4 separate regions of the Homo sapiens genome follow, and all the other regions are reported to be linked to region 1. The links are microRNA targets in miRTarBase. Many come from high-throughput screens and were not tested one by one. Region 1 holds a microRNA gene; each other region holds the end of a gene's coding sequence.

Region 1 (5,392 bases):
TGAGAAACTTTTCTTGTGCTTAGTAAACGTTCTTGAAGTCCAACTTCTTGATATTTTTCTTTTGTTGCTTAGGCTTTCGGTATCATATCTAAGAATCCATTACCTAATCCAAGGTCTACTTTGATGCCAATATCACACAATTTTGATTATGTAACTTTTTCATAAATCTCGAGTTGTACATTTTTTGTATTTTCCTCTCATATGGCTTAGCAATGTTCCACATTTTGATATGTTTTGTTTTTATTTTCACTGAGTTTTATGTATTTTTTACATTTTCTTTGAGTGTTCCTCCATGACTTACGTAAGATTTAAAAGCATGTTCTTTAATATTCAAGTGCATGGATATTTTCCTGATGTCTTTGTTATTTATTTCTAGTTAGACTCTATTATGGTCAAAGAACAAATTTCACACACTTTCTAGTCTTAATTTGTTGAGATATGTTAATGGCCCGATATATGGTATATCTTAGTGACTGTTTCATGGGTTCTTGAAAAAAAAATAGTGTATTTTACTATTTTGGGGTGGATTGTGGTATATATGTCAATTAGACCTTTTTGGCTGGTTGTATTGTTCAGTTCTTTTATATCCTTGCTGATTTTCTGTCCAGTAGTTTTATCAGTTTCTGAGAGTGGAATGTTAAAGTCCTCAACTATAGCTGTGGATTTATCTATTTCTCCTTTCAGCTCTATCAGTTTTTACCTCAAGTATTTTGAGGCCTGTTTTTTGGTGCACATGCATTCAGTATCATTATATATTTTTGGTGAATTGATTCTTTTATCATTATGTAATGTCTATCGTTGTCAGTAATTTTCTTTTCTGTGAAATCTACTTTATCTGATATTGATATATTCTCTTCCTTTTTAACAATTAATGTTTGCATAGTGTATCTTTTTTCATCCATTTATTTTCAGTCTACCTATGTAATTGTATTTGAAGTCAGTTTCCTATAGGAAAGATATTGTTGGATCATATTTTTAACCCACTTTGCCAATCTCTCTCTCTTAATTGGTGTATTTAGACCATTTACATTTAAAGTAATTATTTATATGTTAAGGCTTAAGTCTGCCATGTTATTGTTTGTTTTCTATTTGTTTTCTCTGTTTCTTGTTCCTCCGTTTGTCTTTTTCTTAACTTCCTATGAGTTGCTTGTACATTTTTTAGGATATAATCTTGATTATTTATATATCTGTATTAGTCCATTTTCATGCTGCTGATAAAGACTTACCTGAGACTGGGCAATTTACAAAAGAAAGAGGTTTAATTGGACTTACAGTTCCACGTGGCTGGGGAAGCCTCACAATCATGGCAGAAGGCAAGGAGGAGCAAGTTACATCTTACATGGATGCCGGCAGGCAAAGAGAGAGTGAGAAGCCAGGTGAAACGGGTTTCTCCTTATAAAACCATCAGATCTTGAGACTTATTCACTACCACAAGAACAGTATGGGGGAAACCGCTGCCATGATTCAATTATCTCCCACCAGGTCCCTCCCACAAAAATGGGAATTATGACAGATACAATTCAAGATGAGATTTGGGCGGGGACAAAGCTAAATTATATCAGTATCTTTTGAACATATCATCTTATATTGTTTTCTTAGTGGTTGCTCTAGGTGTTACAATGCATGTAAGTAAGCTATCACTTCTATTAATGGTTTATCACTTTGAGTGAAGTGTAGAAATCTTACTACCATTTAGGTCCTTTTACCTTTCCTAAATTTTAAATATAATGATCTTAATTATTTACTCTAGATACATTGAGCATCACATCTAATGATGTCATAATTTTTGCTTCAAACATCAAATATAGTGTATGAAACTCATGAGAAGACTAGTCTTCAATATATTACCCCATTCTTACTCATTCTGATGCTTTTCTTTCCTTTTTGAAGTTCCAAGCCTTCATTTGTTATCATTTCCTTTCTGTTTAGAGAACTTCCTTTAGCCTTTCATTAAGGGTGCTTTTACTTGCAACAAAGTATCATAAGTTTCCTTCTTGTAGGTTTCCTTCACCTGAGAATGTCTTTATTTCCCGTTTATTCCTGAAGAATATTTTTGCTGGATGCAGAATTCTGGGTTGATATTTACTTCCTTTCAGTACTTGAAAAATCTTGCACCACGCCTTCTAAATTGCATAGTTTTAGGGTGGGAAATTTACTGCAATTCAAGGTGGTATTCCTCTATATGCAATATGTTGTTTCTGTCTGTCTGCTTTTAATTCTTTTCTTTTTGTTTAGTTCTCACAAGTTTAATTTTGTTGTGTCTTTGCATACATTTTTTTAGGTTTATCCTACTTGGAGTTTCCTCAGCTTTTTGAATCTATAGGATATGGCTTTCACTAAATTTGGAGAGTTTTCAACCATTATTTCTTTAAATGTTTTTGTTCTTCTCAGACTCTGATGATACAAATGTTAGATCTTTGTTATTGTCCTAAAAGTTCCCTGATACTTTGTTTATTTTCTGCCCGGTCTCTTCTCTCCCCTGAGTTGTTATTGTCCTAAAGTTCCCTGATACTTTGTTCATTTTCTGCCAGGTCTCTTTTCTCCCCTGAGTTGAGATAAATTTCAAACTGAGTGCATTCCAATAATCTGTACTTAAGTTCACTGATTCTATCTTCTTGTGATCTCCAATGTACTCTTGAGCCCACCTATTGAATTTATTTTAATTACTACACTTTTCAGTTCTATGATTTCCATTTTGTTCTTTTTTATAATTTCTATTTCTTTGCTGAGGTTTTCTATTTTTTTCCTTTGTTTCAAGAGTATATGTAATTGCTTGTTGACACATTTTGATGATGGCTGCTTTAAAAACCTTATCAGATAATGCGAAGATCTGATTCACCTTGCTTTCAACCACCTTGGTGTTTTATCAGTTCGTTGGTTCTTTTTATTCATGCTGTGATTTTTCTGATTGTTCGTATAGCAAGTGATTTTTCCATTATAGTCTAGACATTTTAGATATTACATTATGAGACTATGGATCCTATTTCATCTCCTCTTTTTAGCAGACAATTGCCTGTTCAAGTGTAGCATGAAGGCAGTTTGCCATGCATATTCTGTTTCCAACTGAACCCCACCAACACTATCATGACAAAAGTGGGGCAGTGACTCACATTGCCTCACTACAGATAAGTGGGGTAGAGGTTTAGCCACACCTTTGGCCCTGTTAACACCATCTTGATGAAAGTAGGACACTGAGTCACATTGCTTCATTGCCTCTGAGTAGGAGTATAAGCTCGACTTCCCACTGGACACTCTGACACCAGCAAGGGGTAAGGAGAGGACTGATGCATACCTCTTTGTTACTACAGATGGGGGCAGAAGCTCACTGTCTGCTAAACCCCATTAATACCAGGGAAGCACAGGGTTTGAGAAAGCAGAGTGTCAACCAGCTCTACATCCTACCACCTCATTCAGCTTCATTTATGCAGGTGGAAATAGAGGGTCAGTTCCCTACTGAGCCCTACTGACATCAAGGCCCAGTGGGGAGCTGAGGTTCAACTCCCACCTGGCATCAATGCCTGGCATCAATGAAATGCTTGGTGACCCAAATTTGTACTGCCTTCCTAAGTCTCACTAATCCTGGGTACAGAGGAGGCTCAGCTGCCTGCTGGACCCCACGGCCACTACACTGGCTGGGGAATCAGAATACTGCCTGAGACAGCCAGGGAGAGGCAAAAAGACCAGGTCCCTGCTCAGTCCTGCTAACACTATCTTGGCAGAGGAATTGGAGCACTTCCTGGTTCTGCTGAATGGAAGCAGAATTTCAACTGCCCCATTAACTTGCTGACAAAAGTGCTGTCTGCTTCCACCAGGCAGCAGTGGGAAGATTAGCTCCACATTTAGAAAATTAGGTCCGTGCTCAGCCCCACCCTAGGAAAAGGAAGGAAGAAATTCGAGTCCCACCACCTGCTTTCATAGAGTAGGGTAGTGGTGTGAAAATCAACTCCCCACTAAGTTTCACTGAAATCCCAAAAGCAGGGGCATTTTTTTCTATTGATGTTTGGCTGAGGGTGTATGTATTGCCAAAAAGGTTTTTTTTATTGTTGGGACACCCCATTTCTGGTCAATTAGCTAGGGAAGAAAGTACTTTTTTTGGAGTTTTCTTTTATCCATGGCTATTGGCAGTTCCGGGTTAGATGCTTCTGAAGAGCCCTGTCTGGGATATATGGGCTATATTAAGGAAACGCAGATAACACATCACCGTTTTATTCTTCAAGTCCCAAGGTCCCTAGGTAGTCCACCCCTTTCAGCATTTTCCTATGCTTAGTGCTATATCCAAAGATCTAGGAAAATATGTATCATATGAAATTCAAGTGATATGTCAACTTGCAACATTTGAATTAATTTATATTCTAGACAACCTTTTTAGGTCCTCTTAAAATTTAAGTTGACAGTGAAGTGCCCATTCGAGTGGGTAAATTTTGATATAAAAGGTCAGTGCTACTCATATTTTCCCTGGAAAATCCCCTAAGAATATCAAAGTATTTCTTGTTTTCCCCCATATCTTCCAAACATTTTAATGCTTCTAAGAGCTGATTATGGTAGAATTTTTTTAAGTATACAATCGTCTAAAAATAGCTCTGATTCTATGAATTAGGAAAGAAAAAGGAAAGAGAACCATTAACAGTCCAATCAGATAGTTAAATAAATAAATTTTTGCTAGAAAGAACTGAGAAAGTGGCATCATGTAACTAACTTCAAAATAATACATGGATAAAAATATATATTACTAAAACTATAAATGTTTACAAAAACGTCCGTTAAAAATAAAAACAAGGCCAGCGCGGTGGCTCACGCCTGTAATCCCAACACTTTGGGAGCCCAAGGCGGGCGAATCACTAGGTCGGGAGTTCGAGACCAGCCTGGCCAACATGGTGAAAACCCGCCTCTACTAAAAATACGAAAAATTAGCTGGGCATGGTGGCACATGCCTGTAATCCCAGCTACTCGGGAGGCTGAGGCAGGAGAATCGCTTGAACCCGGGAGGCAGAGGTTGCAGTGAGCCGAGATCACACCACTGCACTCCAGCCCCGGCGACAGAGTGAGACTATGTCTCAAAAATAAATAAATAAATATAAATTAATTAATTAACTAATTAATTAAATAAAATCAAAACAGACAATCCCGGCCAGGCGCAGTGGCTCATGCCTGTAACCTCAGCACTCTGGGAGGCCGTGGTGGGCAGATCACTTGAGATCAGAAGTTCAAGACCAGCCTGGGCAACAAGGTGAAACCCCATCTCAACTAAAAATACAAAAATTAGCAGGGCATGGTGGCGGGTGCCTGTCATACCAGCTACTTGGGAGGCTGAGGCAGGAGAATTGCTTGAACCCAGGAGGCAGAGGTTGCAGTTGAGCCCAGATCATGCCACTGCACTCCAGCCTGGGCTACA
Region 2 (5,392 bases), not on the chromosome of region 1:
CCTCTCCTAGCCTCCCCCTTTCTCTGCACCCACGAGTCTAAAGGACAGCGCCCCCCTCGCGATGTCCCGCAGCTGGCCCTTGGAGGTTCCTGGGTGTCGCACGGCTTCTTCCTTTCGGGGACCCCTCTCCTTTCCTGAGTGGCCACTGGCGCTCCATCTCTTGAAGGGGTACCCCTCAGCAGCTTGCGCCCCCTGACGCCGCCTTCCCTGTTCCTAGGGGCGGAGGGAAGCCCTACCCCAGGTATCCCCCAGCACATGTGTGCACCGCTGTAGATCCCCCCTCTCCTGAGACGCAAGGCCCCTCTCGCTGACACCGCCTCCGCTCCGGTTCCTTATGCTCTCCTTGACTTTATTTTTCCGGCCAGGCCGAAGTTGTTGCTGGATCCCCGGCCCACAGTCCAATCCCATGAGAGCAGCCTGCGGGGTGCGGTGGGGGAGGGCCGGCAAACACATCCACCCAGCAGCCCAGGTCACACACAGGCCGATAGGAAGGCTCGCCCTTCTTGGCCCAAACCGAAGGGCTTCCACCATGCCCATTCTCCCCAGACTTGCATTTTTAAGCCTTTTAACTCTAAATGGACTTCTTTTTCTACTTTTAAAGGAATTTCAGGAATTACGTTGATGGTATCACGTTTCGCCTCTGCAAGCTCTCTAGCTTTATTGCCTGTTATCTCTATACCCTACTCCCACTTGCCTGCCCCTAGAGTTGTCCATTCCATTCTGTTTATCTTTCGTTTTTATGTGTTCTTGCCAAAAATTGTCTTGTTTTGCTGACATGCTTTTAAATTTGTGTAAGAGGAATTGTATTCTCATTCCATTTCTTTTTCAATGCTAAGATTTTAAGATTGGTTCATGTACCTTCTGCCCCTTCTAATTACTGCCCCTTGGGCCCATCTGCCTTGTTTTACCCTTCCCTTTACCTATCCTGCTCCCACTAGTAACAGTGCAATAGGCATTCTCATAATACCCCCTTATGCTTCACTTCTCAAACAGGGTACAATGTATCACCTGGGAATCTTGTTAAAATGCAGGCTCTTGGCCAGGCACGGTGGCTCACGCCTGTAATCCCAGCACTTTGGGAGGCTATGGTGGGCAGATCACCTGAGGTCAGGGATTCAAGACCAGCCTGGCCAACATGGTGAAACCCTGTCTCTACTAAAAATACAAAAGTTTGTCGGACTCGGTGGCAGGCGCCTGTAATCCCAGCTACTCAGGAGGCTGAGGCAGGAGAATTGCTTGGACCTGGGAGGTGGAGCGCAGTGAGCCGAGATTGCACCACTGCACTCCAGCCTGGACAACAGAGCAAGACTCTGTCTCAAAAAAAAAAAAAAAAAAATGCAGACTCTGATTCGGCCTGTCTGGAGCAGGGCCTGAGACTGTATTTCCAACCAGCTTCCAGGTGATGCCTGTGTTGCTGATTCTGGGACTACATTTTGAGGGGCAAGGCCCTTATGGACCTCTGTGAAAATTCATTCTGGGGTTCTGGGTCCTAGGGTATATGTGGATCTAATTTGATGAGTATTGCCCATCAGCTCTCTAGTCTGGGTGCACCTCCTTACCCCATACCAGCTGGGCAGGAGGGTAAAAGGTATATAGTCTGTGGGGAAAGGAAGAAGGTCTTCTCCTTGCTGCTGCCCACATCCCATCCACTAGAGCATCTGGTCAGGGCCCCAAACTCCTCTCTCCCTTCATTGGAATGGACCCAAGGCTCCAGAGCAACGTCCCTGGCTAGCAATGCATGGCCAAGTCAATGATGGATCTAGGCCAGGCAGCCTGGTCTCTGCCCTCACCACATGGGATCCTGAATCCTCAGCTTGCCATCTAGATTGGCTTGACTCATGACTTCCCTAGGCCTGGGCTTTAGCTCTGATAGGAGCTCTTGAGAAGCCTTGGGGTCTTCAGTTAGTTAGGTTGTTTGTGTTTCCTTTGCCCCCTTCACCTTCCCTTGAGTAGCCTGGTAGGACTCAGATGGCCTGGCCTTGCCACTGGCAACTGGCTATCCTGGGCCTGACTTCTCATCTCTAAAATGGGATGGTCACAGCATAGCTATAATTTGTGGTGCTAGGAGTGGTCCCAGGTCCTTCACTCACATGCCAGAGCCCTAAGACAGGGGTTCTTGCCTTAGTTTTACCCATGAGGAAAGTGAAGTTGAGGAAGGTTTAGCGATTTCCACTAAGGGCATGGAGTTAGTAAGTGAGAGTGCTGGGACTCACGCCCAGCCTCAGCTCATGCACCAAAACCCATCCAACCATGAGACCACATCAGCCCCATGTCCTACCTCGCTCTCACTACCATGCCATAATGCGGGAGAAATACAAAGAAACAGAAAGGAAGGACTGGACCTTGGGTTTTGGCACTGATGCTGAAGGCATCTAATCCGTGGCATGGAGGGTTGCAAAAGTCTAAGGCAAAAATGAACCAGGGTTCTAGGGGCTAGCCCCAAGGCCCTGAGTATTTATGGGACAAAAGAGGGGGACCTTGGGTCTGGGGCTTCAAGAGCAAGGATTTTAGGGTTATACATAAAGCAGGGATCAGAACTGGGCAGGAGTTGGGGATGGCCAGGGCTTGGGTGGGGGTCAGGTGTGGATAAAGTTGTCTATCATGTACCTTACTTGGTAATTACCGATCACTCAATGTTTTGTTGGAGGGGCCAGCAAGTGAACGAACGGCCAGCATTCAGGGCATCAAAGGATTGCCCTTTCCAAAGCCCTTCTGGTGCCTGAGCGGCTTGCTGGGTCAGTTTTGGAAACCCTGGGGCTGTGCTGTCCCCACTCACACAGCTGTGCAAGCATCTGGCACCCAGCCCCAGGCCCAAGCATTTCATAATCAAAATAGTTCAACATCTGCACATTTTGAGATTTCATGGCACATGACCTTTTACATCTTGTACACACTTAACCGACCTCTTGTTTACCATTTTAGGGCCAAAATTCTATCCAGGACAGAGAGTTGATCTGAAAGCCCAGAGAAGCTTCCTGTTCCTTCAACAGTCTTTGGGGTCAAAAGATCTTATGCGCCTACAGAAAGTTCTTAGAGCTCAAAACAACATCTTACAGGTTTTTGGCTTCTACAAAATGCTTCACAAATAGATATTGTCTTTGACTCACAACAACCCCATGACAGAAGTGGCCCACGTAACATTGAGGCTCAAATGAATTAATTGGCCAAGGCCACACATTGTGTAAGTGGGTGAAATGGGATTTCTTGATCATTTTTCCATAACAGACCTTGGGATTCTTAGAGAGTGAGTAGGTGCTGTCTGACCCCAGTTGGCCCATTTCTCAGACTTGGGGATGCAGACTGAGGCAGGAAGTAGGAAGTCTAGGGAGGAGGATGCGTGGGCTGCAAGGTTTGGAGAGCGAGTGAGTTGAGGTCTCCTGGGGCTTCTGGCCAGCCTTCTCCCTGATAGATTTTTGTCACTGGGACCCTCTCTAGAGTCTGTGGTTCTCCTGGAAGTGGAAAGAGGGGATTGGTGGGAGGAATGGCAAGGCCAGTGGTACCCAGGTAGAAGTTCTCAGTGAGTCTGAAGCTGAGACAGCTGAGTGGCTATGAGAAAAAGATGCTGTCAGTTGCCAAGGGGGCCCCACGGGTATCATCACATCCATATGGGCGCTATCAGTGGCTTGGTCAAGCTCTGCCCCTGGCTAAGCAATTTTCACCAATGGCTAAGCCATCTGTCTTGCCCCCTCTTCTCAAAGCCCCCAGCCCCTCACACCAGGAACCTGCAGCATTGACTTGAGGAAGGAGTCCGGGGTCAGGCCAGTCTACCTGTTAGGGACTAGGGGTCTGGGCCCTGCCAAGGCAGGGAGCCCTGATCCCATTGCCCTCCCTCTCCCCGTGGGGTCTCAGGCCCTAGGCCAGGGCTCAACAGACACAGGCAGTGGGATGGGGTTGCCCTTCTATTGATCCAAATCCTGAGTGTCGCCTGGGTGAGTCATGGAGGTGAGGAGGCCCACAAGGCTCAGCAGTGTGGAGAAGAGCAGCAGGAAGGAGGCCGTGAAGAGGAGGGCAGGCAGAGCACTGAGCACCAGCAGCAGGAGAGCCGGTAGCAGGTGGCGCCACACCGCGGCCACGACAGGCCACAAGGAGCTCAGCAGGTGGGAGCCAGTGGTGAAGAGTGCATGGCACAACATCAGTGCCAGCAGCAGGTAGAGTATCCCCTCCAGACCCCACAGCAGGCGCTGCAGCGGTTGCCGCCAGTTCGAGGTGCTCCACCACTGGATCCAGCTCGGGGGCATGTGGCTCACCCACCAGCGCACCCAGCCATGCCTCGTGACCCAGGCTGACCAGGGCACTGCCTGCTGTGGCCCCTCGCCAGCCCCGATGGTATCTGTCTCCACTCGCGGCTGCTGCATCATGTCTGGTGCACCTGGGGAGAGGGCCAGGGTCTTGAAGATGCCTGGGACCTTGGGGGGGGGGGGCAGAGAGGGGGTGCAGGGGTCAGGAGGGCACCAGTGTGCGTGGGGTGGGGCTACAGAATTAGGGACTGGGACTTACCTCTGGGCAGTTACCTAAGTCATGTTGCTTCCTGCAGCGCCCAGGACGGCCTGGCAGGCAGATCCAAGTCCCCACTCTCATCTACCCCCACCCTCCCCAGAGGAGCCCCTTTGTGACCCGGGCTGGGGTGGGGTCCAGCCAAGAGAGGAGTCACTGTAGGGTGTGAGGCCCACCCAAGTCCCTCTGCACGGACCCTCCAGGCTGGCAGGGGAGCCTCGGAGCCCCGCAGATGTAGTTTCTCATGCTTTCTCATGGGAAGCCCTCCCTGGATCCCTGTCCCTTTCCTGCTTTCCCTGCTGGCTGATATCCACCCCTTTCCAAACTGCTCTCTCGCAAGTCTTTCTGTCTGGACCTTCATTCTCTAGAGCCACAGAGGAGGCCAGAGTGGCTGCCCCCAATCCACAGGCTCTGAGGTGGCTGCCACATTCTTCCTTGGGCTCCCTGGCTAGTATCCTACCTTCTCTTGCTGCCCAAAGACTCAGATCCAGGTATCTGATACCTATATTATAGGACTGTGAGGTTCAGGCTGGGAAGAAAGGGGTATCATCCCACCTGCCCAGCCAGGAAGGAGAAAAGGGGGCCTGATGAAGAAGGGTGGTCATTGTATATTTGAAGGACACTGAGTTGTGGGGAGGGGCTCTCAGGCCCAAGGATGGAGGCAGAAAGCCAGGCCAAGCAGGGTCAAGGGCATGCCACAGGCTCTCAGGAGCGGGCCCAGCCCCATGAGCAGCAGCAGCAGTGCGTCCTGGAGGCTAAGTTGTCCTGAGACTGTACCCATTTGCAGGAGTAGAGCCTCCTGCTGTCCAGGACCTTCACCGGCCCCCTGACTCTGGCCCCTGGTGAGAAGTTTGCGCTGTGGCAGAGTGTGACCTGCGGGCCTGTGGAGAGAGAGGGT
Region 3 (3,000 bases), not on the chromosome of region 1:
TATTCCCATATTACAGACAGGGGAACTGAGGCATCGAGTGACTAAACCAACTGGTCTAGGCCCACTCCCTGGTGAATGGCAGAGCCAGGAGGCGAACCCGGGCCTGCCGGCTCCTGTGTGCCTGAGCAGGGTCCTGTGCTGGGGCGGGGTTGGCCCTTCTTGCTCAGCCTCACTCTCTGCTCTCTCTCTCCCAGGGCCAGCAGTTTCATCATCACAGGGTCCCTGCCTCAGGGACTAGGGATAAAGACGGCTTCCCAGGACCCCCTAGGTACCGCTCTGCTGCTGACAGCGTCCAGAGCTCTACCAGAAACGCTGGCCCAGCCATGGCTGGCCCCCACCACTGGCAGGCCAAGGGAGGTCAGGTACCCCGCCTGCTTCCGGATCCCGGCAGCCCAAGACTGGCCCAAAATGCCCGCCCCATGACCGATGGCAGGGCCACCGAGGAGCATCCGAGTCCCTTCGGAATCCCATACTCCAAACTGTCTCAGTCGAAGCACCTAAAGGCCAGGACGGGCGGTAGCCAGTGGGCCTCATCGGATTCTAAACGGAGGGCTCAAGCCCCCCGGGACCGCAAAGACCCCTAGCAGCATGTCCCAGCCTGGAGCCACACCTTCTGAGGCCCCAGCCCAGACTCATGACGCGGAGGGCAGACAGGCCGCCTGGGCCTACCAGAGCCCACTGGGACGGCAGGAAGGTGGGATGGGCGGGAGACGTTGGCACTCACCTGGTCGGTGCACCAGTACCAGGTGGCCATGATGGTCAGGCCAAAGGTCATCCCGGTCCACGGCAGGTCCCCTGTGTGGGGGTCTCGAAACATGTGCATGGCGTCTGTACGTGGCAGGTGGCAGGTGGTGTTGGCAATGGTCCTGGAGGGAATGGCCTGGGCGTAGGCTGCCTCCAGCTGCCCGTAACCACCGATCTGGTCAAAAGCTGGAGGGGTCAGGGTGGAACAGGGACAGTTTGGTGGTTGCGGGGCCCTGACTCCCTGGGCTCCCCCCTGCCTTCATCTCACAAGAAACTTCCTGATGCATCAAACTTGAGTTTTTTCCACCTCATCTTTCCCAGTGTTTGGAAAGGTGTGAGGGTAGAGGGTTGTTTTTTTTTTTAAGGTGTATTTGAATGACTATTTTATTCGTATTTAAAATAATACTATTAAGTAAGCATTTTGCACATGGGCACCCCAGTGTCCCGCTGGCCCAGCAGGAGTCACTGTTGGCCTCTGGACACTCATCGGCCTTGGGCAAGTGGTTCTCAGCCAGGTTTCCGATTGTCGATTCAAGGAAGCAAAAGTAATTTTTCTTGACATTTGAGGACCTTCCTGAGGCTTCTAAAGTGTTCATCCTGATCACCTGAAGGGTGTGATTTTAGCAGAGCTGAGAGTGGCTGGTGGTGATGTGGCCCCACCCCCTGAGGCACAGAGAAGAGGGAGACAGGTCCAGAGAGGGATGGGGCCTCCACCAAGACCATATAGACCATCTGGCGGGCTCAAGCCGGGGCTTTTTCCTCTCCAGTCCAAAACACCTCACTGTTCCTGTCTACCTCGGGGTCAGGGCCCGGCATGGCCAAGCCCTGGCCCATCTGTGTCTGTGTCACTCCCCTCCCTTCCAGACTGGGCCTGGCTGCTGGGATCCCTCTCATGCGGTGGGTCCCAGGGACACTAGAGCCCCTGGTCTGAGAGGGAGAAGCCTGGATGTAGGAAAACCCGTTTCCACCCCAGGCCCTACTCCCTAGCCTTTTCCAAGTGGGACATGGAAGAGGCAGCCTGCTGCCTGGATGCTGGTCTCCCCAGCATCACTGTTCCCATGGAGCTCAGGTCAGGCTCTGTATTCAGACCGAGGGTTTGTGTGAGGCTCAGAGCAAATGAACAAGTGCCATTCAAGGGTTAGAAACTGCTCAGCCACAGGGTCCCAGTGTCTGAGTCTGGAAGAGTCTTTAGAGATTTGTTCACTCTCTGAGGGATCCTCCTGGCTCTGCTTACATACTTCCAGGGACGGTGAGCTCACGCTCTCTCCGGGCAGCCCTGTGAGTTTCCTATCTGTTCCAGACTAGTATCGCCAATCTCTCCCAGCTCTCTTCTTTCCTCCCTGGCCTTTGTCCTGCAGGAGGTAGCATCACCTCTTGGCATTTTGTACATGCTTTTAAACAATTGGAGGAGCTGCCCAGGCAGTTTTATGGCCTCCTGGTTGTGTGCCTTCACACCCGCCTACAGCCCCACCTCACCATCAAGCGCTGAGCCAATGCGGGTGTGGCTGGCCCTGAGTTCCTGAGTCAGCTCCTTGCCAGGGCCAGAGCTGGTAACAGCGGGGCAGCAGGGTGGGTAGCCTCTACCAGCCAGGGCAGTCCCTGAGGGGCCAGCAGGGGGGCTGACTGCCTAGTGGCTCAACCTCCTGAACCCACCCACTCCCAGCGATGCTACCCAGAACCCCAACGGCATGAATCCTGCACAGTGCCGGGCAGTGCCAGACTCCAAAGGGCTCGCTGTGGGGACAGCCCCGCCATGGCCACAGACTCTGTCCTCACCTTTGATTGTCAGGATGACAGCCCCCACCACCATGATGAGCGTCTGCAGGGCGTCCGTGTAGATTACAGCAGCCAGGCCCCCTGCCAGTGGAAGCAAGGTTGCTGGAGGGGGCCCTGGCCCCAGGGAGGAGGGACACGGGGAGGAACTTCTGGGGCTCCTGCTGGGGCCACTTCCTGGGCTGCTCCCTCGGGCCTGTAGGGGGAGGTGGCCTTCTGACCCCTTTACACGTCCCCTGGGTGGACCTCCCTGCTGCAGGCACCATACCTGCGATGGTGTACAGGGCTGTGATGCCGAGCGTGAGGATGGTGGAGAGGTAGAAGTTCCAGCCCAGGCAGATGTGCACAAACAGAGCCCCCGCGTACAGGTCCAGCTGCGGAGGGAGAGAGCCTTGTGTGGGACTGTTATTCCCAGGGCTCCAGCAAGCCACTCCCTGGGTGACCTCGGGCAAGGCCCTCTCTGGGCCTCGGTGGCCTGTGGAT
Region 4 (5,392 bases), not on the chromosome of region 1:
GATGGCCAAATGCTGAATGAATTGTGAGAGTTCAGAGGTGGAGCTCCTCCCGACGGCAGTGGGCGCCCATGGGTGTGTGCTGCTTTAGTGGAGTGGAGAGGAACGCCCTTGGAGATAAGCAGGCTCAGTGGAACAAAGCTGCGGTATCGGACAGACTTCACCTCCACGCACTCAGAAAAGGCACTAGGACGATGGGGACCTAGGGGCTGGAAGCCACTCCCACAGGAGCCCAGGTGCTCAGTCAGCGCAGGGAAGGAAGACCAGGGATGCCTGCGGCAGAGGGGAGAAAACGGGGAGCCCGAGTGCCCGGAGCCTCCGTGGAGGCGTGTGTCTATATCGCGACGGAGAAAACGCGTCCCCAAGAGGCAATGAAAGTTAAAATGACATTGGCCCTGCCCCTCAGACACACATAATAGGATCCTGGGTGCAGGAGAGCCAGGGTCAGCGAGAGGAGCCAAGGAAGACATTCCCAGTGGCTGAACAGACCCCCAACGGGAGGCCAGCGCAGTGCTGAAGACCTGTCTTGTGGGAGGGGTGGACTTGGGGCCTCACCAGCCTCAAGGGATTAAGGCTTCTTTCTGTGTTTCGGGGGTGGGGGCACTGAAGCCAGATGCCACTTGCTGCCCAAAGCTCAGGGTTCCAGACAGACCCCAAAGAAAGGCTTGTGTGGACTGGACAGCCTCTCCCTGGGTGGAGGTGGGTGTCAGGTGGTGTTCCTGGCGGTCTGTGGCGGGATTCCCGCCAGGGGCCGTTTCTCCTGAAGAGGGAAACAGATCTTATCTTCACATCTTCCCCCCATACACCCTCCGCTCCCCCACCCTTTTTTTTTTTTTTTTTAATACAGGCGGGGTCTCCCCATGTTGCCCAGGCTGGTCTTGAACTCCTGGGCTGGGCTCAAGTGATCCTCCTGCCTCAGCCTCGCAAAATGCTGGGATTACAGGCATTGAGCCACCACACCCAGTCTACGTTTTTGAGAAGGATTGTTCCATAACTGAAGACTGGCTGGGTCAGGGGGAAATTAGCCTGCGGGTGGGGCTGGATCATGCTGATATTGGCCATCGGCGGAGGAAGCTATACTTCTTTCTCCTCAGGCCAGCACTAACCCTGGCCCTGACTCCTAGGACCCCATCCTCATCCGCCCTCCCTTCCCTGGAGGAAAGCTCCCTTTAATATAAGACTTTAGCTTCCTTGATACTCACTTGAGAAGCCAGGAAGATGTGAGGCATGCGGAAAAGCGCAGAGTTAAAAAACAAAACCTTACAATATTTACCAGGTACTTTCCCTACACACACATCCATCTGGCGTGTGTTAGGGATGACAGGTTGGCCTGCGTTTGGAGAAAGGTAAACAGCTCAAGGTCCTAGGCACCCAGCCAAAGTCCATACGATATGCCGCTCAGTACCACCCACTGCCCCGTCTTCATCTTCAGCTGAAACTCAGATCCCGGGAGGTCTGCAAATGGATGAGGTGCTATCCCACACCAGTCAGATTCCAATTTGTCCAAGATATCCCAGATCTACCCACTCAATTACATTTAAGAGACAGTTTCTGTCTTTACTTTCACCACCAGTCTTGGTTAAACATCAGAAAAGAGACAAATTACACACTTCTCAGAAATTGAAATTTTATAAAAAGGCATTTTTCTCTTATATCCATAAAATGATATAATTTTTGCAAGTATAGAAATGTGTCATAAATTATAATGTTCCTTAATTACAGCTCAATGCAACTTGGTACTTTCTTCCCTCCCTAAAAAACGAGAGAGAACCAAAAAATAATATATATATATATAACTGTATATATATATTTATATAATATAGACAAACAAAATATGAAAAAAAATCATTTCCTCTTTGGTATAAAAATCAGACTCTCACCTTGAGAGACACACAGACAGACATGATACTGGGTTTGTAAACTGTGTGGCCAAAAGGGATTTCCCTGCCAAGACTTCCCCTCTCCCATTCCCTGCCCACCCGCCCCCACCTCACTGCAGCCCATCCAGTTCCTTTGGGGCTCCCATATGGAACATTTAAAATCCCCCTACCCACTCCCAGCTCCAAACCATTCCTGAAGAATCCCCCGACCCACTATCAAAGAAGAGGAAAGGATTCTTCTCAAGGCTGATTAGGTAGCGACTAACTTGGGAAATGCCTTATTTAGGGAATAGCTTCATAGGTGTGGATGAAGTAAAGGACAGGCTGTGGCCAAACTCTGACAGTGTCCCATCCAGACCAAGCCAGGCACTGGCCTGGGCCTGGTTTTGCCCTTATCCTCCTCTACTACCCGGCACAAGGATTCCACCACCTCTTGCCAGAGGCTGGGCCTGAGGGGCGGGGCTCCTTGCTTACTGAAGAAGGGAGCAGAGAGGCCAATTCCCGTTCCAGCCTCATCTCAGGTGCACAGCTTCCCCCTGCAGCCCCACCACAGGGCCCTGGGGTGTAGATGCAAGAAAGCACCAGATGGGGAGGCAAAGGGAGGTCAAAAGGGAGTCTGCCAATAAACTTGGGTTTAAATTTAAAATTAAAGAAAACTACGCCTCCCTGAGCTGGGTGTGGTGGCTCACGCCTGTAATCTCAGCACTTTGGGAGGTTGAGGTGGGCAGGTCAGGAGGTCAGGAATTCAAGACTAGCCTGGCCAACATGGTGAAACATCTCTACTAAAAATACAAAAATTAACCAAGCGTGGTGGTGTGTGCCTGTAATCCCAGCTACTCAGGAGGCTGAGGCAGGAGAATCGCTTGAACCCAGGAGGTGGAGGTTGCAGTGAGCTGAGATTGTGCCATTGCACTCTTGCCTAGGTGACAAGAGTGAGACTCCATCTCAAAAAAAAAAAGAAAAAAAGAAAAAGAAAAAAGAAAAGAAAACTACCCCTCCCCACTGACCAAATTTCAGACCCAGCTTTAGCTCACTAAGGATTTGGGGGCCACTTTCCTAGGCTCCAGCCCAAGGCCAGCAGGACTAAGGAATCCAGGAATTGATATGTGTGTGTGTTGGGGGCAGAGGGCAGCACTTTACTCTCAAGGTGAGGAAGCAGACAGGACCAAACCCTCCTTTACACTCTCCCACTACCCTCTGCTCATGGGTACCTCCCTCCCTGGTCAGCTCCTCTGCCCCACAGAGCACTGGTCACTGCAGGCAGAGCCGACATGGATCCTCCCAAACCACCCCACAGCCGGCCAGGCTGCGGCATCCCAGTGTGTGCCAGCCTCCTTTTCCCAGGAGAGTTAAGACACCAACCACAACATAAAAGTCACATAAAAGCCTCCTCCACTTGCCAAATAAAAAAAGACAAAACCAAACTGGACACAACACAAATCAAGGAGAGACATACACGATGTGAGGGGCCGAGGCCCCTGCAGGTCTCTGGCTTCCCGGCATGGTACATTCTTATGTAATTCAGGAACAGAGGCACTAGGGCCCCTCTGGGGAGTAGGAGTAAAAAAATAAGGAGATTATAGTCTCCCTGTGGGTCCCAGGCAGGGCAGGGGCAGACACAATCTCTCACAGTTTTTTCTTGTTTTTGGTTCCACTTCTGGTCCCCGAGTGGGGCTGGCTCCCCGTGCCTCAGCCTCTGCTCTGCCCTTGGGCCTGCTCCCTCTAGCTCCCCAGCTGGTGGAAGGGCCTACAGCTGGGAACAGATGTCCCAGCCATGTGTGGTGGGACCAGCAGGACAGAGTCTACCGGGGGGACGGGAAGCAAGGAATGAGGACCAGCAGTTCCGAGACGCTGTTCCCTCAGTGACTGGCCAGCCCTGGGTGCTCTGGTCACTGGCACAGGGCATCCATCCTCGGCCTTCAGCCCTTGAGGGGCTTGTCGGCACCGCCACTGGGGCTACTGGCACTGTCACTCTTCTTCCTGCGCAGGCTCTCAATCCAGCTGGAGCTGGAGCGGGTGGTGAAGCTGGAGAGCGCGAGAGAGCTCAGCCGCATGTTCTTGCCAGACATGATGAGCTCCCCGAAGCCCTCCTGATGGGAGAAGGCATAGCCGGAGCGCCGGGAGCCAGTGCGGCCAACCCGCCGCATGCAGCGGTGCTGGGCCTTCTGCTTCTTCCTCACGAGCTGTGTGTAGCGGACCTGCAGAGGGGCACAGGGAAGAGCCCTCTGTCAGCGTGGAGGTGTCAGATATCGCCAAGGAGAAGGGACCCACAGCACCCGGGACCAGGCTGACACAGAGGCCTCCGACCCACAGCACCTGGGACCAGGCTGACGCAGAGGCCTCTGTGGCCAGCTGCACAGGGTGTCTGTCCCCAGGAAGAACAGATAAGCACCAACACACTGAACAGCCACATGGCCCCACAGAGCCCCCCAGTGTTCACATGAGGCCTTTCCAGCCACCCCATCTCTGCCTCCCACAGCAGGTAGCCTGGCTTCTCACCGTGTCGGAGAGATCCGGCTTCAGGTTGAGCCTGAGGAATCGGAAGGCAACCACGGGCATGATGCAGACGACTGTGGTGAGCACAATGGTCAGCCACACCGTGGGCTGGGCCAAGGTGTTCTGGGCATTCCCTGGGGATGAAGAGGAGTCAGTGGCCTTGGGAGTCACGAGGCAGACATTCCCCGTTCCCATTTCTGGCAGCTCCACTTCCCTACTCTCAAAGCCTAAGTCACCTCTGGCTTCCCGCTTCTCCAGGCTCACCCTCCAAATGTAAATCTCCAAATTTAGCTCCAAACTCCCCCAAAGCTCCAGACCTGCTGCTTCAACTGCCAGACTTGACATACCAGGCATCTTGAATTTCCCGTGGCCCAAACTCAACTATTGTTTCCTTTCCCCAAATCTGATCCTGGTCTTTCTCAACTCAGGAAATGCCACAACCCATTCAGTTGCTCCAACTAAAAACCCTGCAATGGATCTTGATTCATTTCTGTAAAAATTTTTTTTTAATTTTTTTTTTGTTGTTTTTTATCTTGATTCATTTCTCTCTCTTCTTTGGACCCCACATTCAATCTATTGGTTCCATTTTTTTTTTTTTTTTTTGAGACAGAGTTTTGCTCTTGCCCAGGCTGGAGTGCAATGGCGCGATCTCGGCTCACCACAACCTCCACCTCCCAGGTTCAAGCGATTCTCCTGCCTCAGCCTTCCCAAGTAGCTGGGATTACAGGCATGTGCCACCAAGTCCGGCTAATTTTGTATTTTTAGTAGAGATGGGGTTTCTCCATGTGGGTCAGGCTGGTCTTGAACTCCCAACCTCAGGTAATCCGCCTACCTCGGCCTCCCAAAGTACTGGGATTATAGGCTTGAGCCACCGCGCCCGGCCTGTTGTTTCCATTTTCAAAACATCTCTGGAATCTCACGGCCTTTTACTCTATTCCGAGCCCTCATTAGGCTCACCTGGTGACTGCTCTCACCTCCTAGTCTCCCATTTCCACCCTTGCCCCCTACACTTTATTATC

The links. Region 1 holds the annotated microRNA hsa-miR-6134 (UGAGGUGGUAGGAUGUAGA, at 3,391-3,409, opposite strand). A microRNA usually pairs through its seed, bases 2 to 8, with sites in the 3' UTR of a target mRNA and lowers its output. Matches are read on the target gene's strand: a 7mer-m8 pairs with bases 2 to 8, a 7mer-A1 pairs with bases 2 to 7 and ends in A, and an 8mer does both.
Region 2: the mRNA of TMEM239 is a reported target of hsa-miR-6134. The part of its 3' UTR that is shown has no 7-base or 8-base seed match.
Region 3: the mRNA of FAM83G is a reported target of hsa-miR-6134. Seed matches in the 3' UTR shown: 8mer at 1,048-1,055, 7mer-A1 at 1,519-1,525 and 8mer at 2,212-2,219.
Region 4: the mRNA of ATP8B2 is a reported target of hsa-miR-6134. Seed matches in the 3' UTR shown: 7mer-m8 at 2,751-2,757 and 8mer at 2,594-2,601.

Annotation. Positions count from the first base shown.
Region 1 is chrX:28,492,185-28,497,576 of GRCh38, forward strand. MIR6134 (microRNA 6134) reads right to left here and starts at 3,479; the gene lies at 3,371-3,479.
Region 2 is chr20:2,815,521-2,820,912 of GRCh38, reverse strand. TMEM239 (transmembrane protein 239) reads right to left here and starts at 4,549. Exons shown (of 2, transcript NM_001167670.3): 1 at 4,498-4,549; 2 at 2,851-4,369. The coding sequence starts at 4,358. The coding sequence ends at 3,900. It overlaps C20orf141 (chromosome 20 open reading frame 141), which reads right to left. Exons shown (of 3, transcript NM_001256538.2): 3 at 5,083-5,375. The coding sequence ends at 5,138. RefSeq lists a silencer at 3,993-4,052.
Region 3 is chr17:18,968,943-18,971,942 of GRCh38, reverse strand. It overlaps FAM83G (family with sequence similarity 83 member G), which reads left to right. Exons shown (of 6, transcript NM_001039999.3): 6 at 195-3,000. The coding sequence ends at 584. SLC5A10 (solute carrier family 5 member 10) reads right to left here. Exons shown (of 15, transcript NM_001042450.4): 6 at 2,786-2,891; 7 at 2,521-2,601; 8 at 725-930. Among named protein-coding and RNA genes, the nearest start is that of SLC5A10, 18 kb to the right of the region's middle. RefSeq lists an enhancer at 238-1,179.
Region 4 is chr1:154,347,523-154,352,914 of GRCh38, reverse strand. It overlaps ATP8B2 (ATPase phospholipid transporting 8B2), which reads right to left. Exons shown (of 28, transcript NM_001370597.1): 27 at 4,377-4,507; 28 at 1,611-4,075. The coding sequence ends at 3,797. Among named protein-coding and RNA genes, the nearest start is that of ATP8B2, 25 kb to the right of the region's middle. RefSeq lists enhancers at 2,617-3,600, 3,601-4,585.